Regions from separate parts of the Homo sapiens genome. Here region 1 is linked to region 2. The links come from fine-mapping of genetic effects on gene expression. A gene starts in region 2. The other region holds a variant in brackets. All regions are shown on one strand. Distances are from middle to middle.

Region 1 (2,919 bases), 24 kb before region 2:
AATATCTCATGAAAATGTGTTCAATATCATTAGCCATCAGGGAAATGCAAATCAAAACAATGACGAGATACCACTTCACACCCACAAAGATGACTACCAATCAAAATGACAGACAATAACAAGTGTCGGCCAGGATGTGGGAAAATGGAACCCTCATACATTGCTGGTGGGATGTAAAATGATTCAGCTGCTTTGGTAAATAATGTGAAACTTCTTTAAAAGGTTAAACATACAGTTACCACATTGAAATGGGAAAAGCTCCTTTGTCCCCCTCTCAGGACGTGCGATGGGGGTGTGGCTCGCTTCTTCAGTGCTCCGCTGCTCAAACCTCTAGAGGAGCAGACAGACGGGGGCAGGCTGTGGGGTTCCGACCCCATAGCACTATCTAGGGGTGAATGTTTACAGCTTGTGAAGCCCCAGTGGGTGTGTTTTACAGTTTGCCGTCTATAGGTGGCTTGTGTTAGCTCAATTAGACCCTCTACCATGTCGCAAGGACAGAGGGCTTTCTGTACCCCCGGGTTTCTTGCCTTGGTGTACTGGAAGAATAGGATCACACATGGGCTTGGAGAATGAGTGTGAGGTTTTATTGAGTGGGGGTAGCTTTCAGCAGATGGGGGAGCCAGCAGGGAGATGGTTTTCCCCTGGAGTTGGGCCACTCGGCAGCCCCGGCTCTCTTCCAACTGCCCCGGCCAAACTCCGTGTCGTTCTGCCAGTGCCAATGTACTCCTCTCGATGTCCAGCCGCTTCTGTCTCTGCCTTGCTAGGGTCTCCGTCTGTTACAGGCACAGGATGGGGGCATGGTGGGCCAGGATGGTCTTGGGAAATGCAACATTTGGGCGGGAAAGCAGGAGTGCCTGTCCTCACCTAGGTCTGTGGGGATGGAGCCCTAGCCAGGGACCACACCCTTCCTGTACCGAGCACTTCCCTTCCCTGGTCCATATCATTTAAAGGTACCACTCTCTTCTCTTCCCAGCACTCCTGTATCAATATGACCCAGCAATTTCACTCCTAGGTATACCCAAGAGGCATTAAAACATATGTTCACACAAAAACTTATACACAAATATTCACAGCATCATTATTCATCATAGCCTAAAAGTGGAAACAACCCAAATGTCCATCAATTGATGACTAGAAAAACAAAATGTGATATATTCATCCAACAGAATACTATTTGGCCATACAAAAAATTAAGTTCTGGCACATGCTATAATATGGATGAATCTTGAAAACATTACACTAAGAATTCAATCACAAAGGAGCACATGTTGTATAATCTCATTCATATGAA[A/G]TATCCAGAATAAGCAAATCTATACAGACGGAAAGATTAGTGGTTACCTATAGCTAGGAGGGCTGGTGGGGAATAGGGAGTGATTGCTAATGGGCATAGGGCCGCTTTTTGTGGTGATAAAAATATTCTAATTTAATGAAACACATAAAAACAATTTTTATAAATAAACAACCAAACAGAATCATACTATCCATCAAAGCCCATCTATATTTAGTTTTTTTGTTTTTTTGTTGTTTTTTTTTTTGAGATGGAGTCTTGCTCTGCCACCCAGTCTGGAGTGCAATGGCACGATTTCGGCTCACTGTAACCTCCGCCTCCCAGGTTTAAGCGATTCTCCTGCCTCAGCCTCCCAGGTAGCTGGGACTACAGGCATGTGCCACCACATCCGGCTAATTTTGTTGTATTTTTAGTAGAGATGGGGTTTCACCATGCTGACCAGGCTGGTCTCAAACTCCTGACCTCAAGGGATTCACCCGCCTCGGCCTCCCAAAGTGCTGGGATTACAGATGTGAGCCACCGTGCCCAGCCAAGCCCATCTATATATAGAAAAGGGTATGTAACAGAATCAAAAATGTGATTCAAATTTTACGTAGGCTGTCTTGAAATAAATATTCATCAAACATGAACATATCACAGTTTAGAAAAGAGCAGAGTTTTGAATCTGTGAATTACACACAATAGTCTTTTGGTTTTTTGTTTTGTTTTTCAGAGTACCTACTTTCCAAAAGGTCTACTACAGCTCCAGGATCTACTGCACTTTCAAATACCTGCAGAGAAAAATGGGGAAAATAAATTTTCAAAGTTGTATTAATAAGCGCATATAGAAACTGTAAATGCCAGGTGCAGTAGCTCACACCTGTAATCCTAGCACTTTGGGAGGCCGAGGTGGGTGTATTGCTTAAGCTCAGGAGTTTCAGACCAGCCTGGGCAACATGGTGAAACCCTCTCTCTACAAAAAATACAAAAGTTAGCTGGGCATGGTGGCTCATGCCTGTATTCCCAGCTACTTGTGGGGCTGAGGCTGGAGGGTCACTTGAGCACAGGAGACAGAGGTTGCAGGGAGCCGAGATGGCATCACCACATTCCAGCATGGGAGAAAGAGTGAGACCCTGTGAAAGAAAGGAAGGAAGGAAGGAAGGAAGGAAGGAAGGAAGGAAGGAAGGAAGGAAGGAAGGAAGGAAGGGAGGAGCCGTAAATTATATTCTTCCAAGTAATTAACATATGTAAAATCCAGTCACATAACATTTTAGAATTCAGCAGATGCACCTTTAATAGGTGTCTGATTAAAAGTTCAAAAAGTGATTATAGAATAAATGAAGGATAATTAACACAACAATAAGAAGTGCAAGAAAATTTCAATTAGCTAAATCTACCACATGCTAAAAATATCATCGACTTGACCTAGCTCTACTGTTTGTTGCTAAAAGCCCATCTTAAATCAACCCCAGAGTGTTGTTTGACTACCTAGAAAAACATTCTGTATACAACAGATACTCATTAAATGTTAACTGAATGAATGGTTTCTCTCTCCAAGCAATTGGTTGTGCTAAAAAGGAACATAAAAAGAAATATTACCTATGCGTAACACAAAACAAAAGCTAAGTACTAGCAACTAGCAGCTACACTCC
Region 2 (2,919 bases):
TAAATTTAAGATGTGTATGAACCATTAAAATGAGATGACAAATCAGCGGGTAGACATGAGTCTGGAGCACAGGGGTAAGGTCAGGACTTGGATTTCAATTTGAGAATTATAGATACACAGATGTTATTTAAAGCCACAGGAATAAACAGGATTCTCCTCACTGGCCAAAATATGAGGAACTCTAAAGTTAGAGGTCAGCTAGAAGGGAAGAAGACTGAGGAGAAGTAGTGAAAGAGGTAGGAGAAAAACTAACAGCATTAGCGTTTATATAGGGCTTACTTTATGCCAGGCACTATTCAAAGCACTTTGTGGCTTCATGGAAGCAAAGAGAAAAATGTTTTTCTTTTCTTCCTCCCTTTCCAGTCTCTCCTGTGACTTTCACCCCTAAATTCAAAAGGTTTAGGTGCAAAAGTGATTCTCAGCTTTTATTTGTAATTAATTTTATAGTAATCTTGTACTGTTATAATCTTGTACTGTTATAATACTATAATTATAGTATACATTCATTGGAAAAATATTCAAACAGCACAGTACAGGGAAGCTAAATGTGGAAAGTAAAGATCCTCAGAAGCTTTCCTTCCTAGGCTCACCCACCAGAGGTAATCATTAACAGTTTCTTGCATATCCTCCAGGAATGTTCTGCGCAAACACACACACACACACACACACACACACACACACACACGGACGCAAACAAATACCATCCCTCTCTCTTCTCTCTCTGTATACGTACGCATATGTTTAATTCTGCAAGTTGCTTTGTTTAAAACTCAATACCTTTTGGAGGTATTTATATATCAGCATATTCAGATACAATTTACTTTTTTTAAAAAGGGTAATATGCCATTGTATTAATATTCCATACTTTAAGTTCCTCTATCGATGGACAATTAGAATGCTTTTTTTTTTCTTGCCACACACACACAAAAATTGCTGCCAGAAATCTTTGTAGTAAATCTTTGGATATTGGTGCAAAAATAATTGTTGCATACTTTCTTAGTGGTGAAATTGCTGAATCAATCCGCTCAAGCCTCTCATATTGTCAAATTACTCCTCCTAAAAGGTTATACTAATGACATTCTCACATCATTTCCTTACATCTTGGTACACATTTGGTATTAAGCGACTTCACAAGTTTGCCAGTCTAAACACATGGAAAAAAATGGCGTCATGTTGTTTTTATTTGGGTCTCTTTATGAGTAGGGCAGCAAGACCTGATTGTTAAACGTTCAAGTTTTGAAGTTAAACTCCCTGGGTCTGGATCCTACTTCTTCCTTGTAAAATGTGTGATCTCGGGCATGCTGGGTCTACTTCCTCGTCTCAAAAAAAGAGGATAAAGAGAGTACATATCTTTAGGCTTAAACAAGATACGCAGGCATACAGGAAGCCCTTCTTATGCGTTCGCTACTAGCGGTACTGATCCTAATTTTTTTGAAGCCGTGCCGGCTCCGGTACTTTATTTTTGGTGTGCTCCTCCAACCAACCAAGTTTCGCAGAATTCTGTTGTTGCCTGTAATTAGAAATGAGACGAAAATTGGCTCCGCTTGTTCAAAATTCTCCTCCCTCCGCCCCAACTCTGCCTTAGAATCACTGGTTTAAATGTCAATGTAAAGGAATGAGTTGCAATTTTTAAGCAACATGTAAAGTGCACACCTGGTCTGAGTACCTCCCGGCGGCCAGGACCCGCCGTTTTCGGTATAGGGAACACCAGATAACAATATATAACGCTACCTAACAAACGTTTCTCCACCCACAGCGCCATTAGCGGTTAGGTTTGCAGTGCCGAAGAGCTGCAAGAAAACGGGGCTTGAAACAGGAATACAATTGCAGATCCACCCACTACACGCAAAGGGCCCGGGACGCGCCTCCACAGCCCCGCCCCAACCGGAAGTGACGCACCGCGCCGACTATTTCTTCCGCCGTCCGCCGGTGGCGAGGCCCAGGCTGTCGCCGGGTGTGCAGCGGCGTCGCGGCCAGTAGAGGGATTCTGGGTAACGGCCCGGACCCCCGGCTGGGCTTCTGGCTCGGCGCAGCAGGTTCCATTCACGCCAAGTCTGTTGGCAGTGGCAGTTGTAGGGCCAAGGGCGGTTGTAGGACCCGGAGCAGCCGGACATGGAACAACCGTGGCCGCCTCCGGGACCCTGGAGCCTCCCTCGGGCCGAGGGTGAGGCTGAGGAAGAGAGTGACTTCGACGTGTTCCCCAGTTCTCCCCGCTGCCCGCAGCTGCCAGGCGGCGGCGCCCAGGTGAGAAGGGGCCTGCGTTCTGCGGAGGGATGGAGTGGTGCTGTCGCCAAACCCCTGGAATGCCGCGTCTCCCAGACCCTCTTCTACGCCTTTTTCTACGCCCACCTCACTGCCAGGGGCCGGGGACCTGGGACCTGACGCCTGATGCCATCCCACCCCTTTTATGGCATCTTCGGAGGGCAGACGGGGTGGCCATATATTACCAACCTCCACCTCCACGCACATGTTTTCTTTCGCCTTGGCTGATTCCTGTTCACTCTTGGAATACCTTCCTCCATCTCCCCTTCCTGACAGCACTCAGATTTGGGGCGGCTCATGCTGTAACATTGACCCTTTGTCCTCTTGTGAGAGGTTTTCCCCAAGCACTTTATTCTGTTAAAGGCTCTAGCATACTTGTGCACAGTTGCTAGGAACAGTGAATGATTGTAGTTCAGCATCACACTGAGTCCTGACAAAGATTTCACATGCGATTTTCACCGATGTTGACAACTGAGTAAATTCTTTAAATCTCGCTTTTGACGCTGGCGTACACCTCTCCCATTCGCGTGACCATCTTTGCCTTACTGTTTTGTTTTTTAGTTTTGCTTCACGTCATTCTCCAGTGAAAATATATACGCATATACTTGTGTTTTCCTTCAGACTTCTCTTAGGTTCCTGGTATTGTGTTTTCAATCC

What was found. PIP is the estimated chance that this variant, and not a neighbour inherited with it, causes the effect.
Region 1: its variant is the best candidate, but not a certain one, in a credible set for the expression of CDC37L1-DT in esophagus mucosa (GTEx, PIP 0.63).

The regions. Positions count from the first base shown.
Region 1 is chr9:4,654,032-4,656,950 of GRCh38, forward strand. SPATA6L (spermatogenesis associated 6 like) reads right to left here. Exons shown (of 12, transcript NM_001353486.2): 3 at 2,010-2,058. Among named protein-coding and RNA genes, the nearest start is that of PLPP6, 6.8 kb to the right of the region's middle. The variant A/G (reference allele first, on the strand shown) is at 1,292.
Region 2 is chr9:4,677,656-4,680,574 of GRCh38, forward strand. It overlaps CDC37L1-DT (CDC37L1 divergent transcript), which reads right to left and starts at 1,825. Exons shown (of 2, transcript NR_121598.1): 1 at 1,732-1,825. It overlaps CDC37L1 (cell division cycle 37 like 1, HSP90 cochaperone), which reads left to right and starts at 1,914. Exons shown (of 7, transcript NM_017913.4): 1 at 1,914-2,244. The coding sequence starts at 2,113. RefSeq lists an enhancer at 2,048-2,137.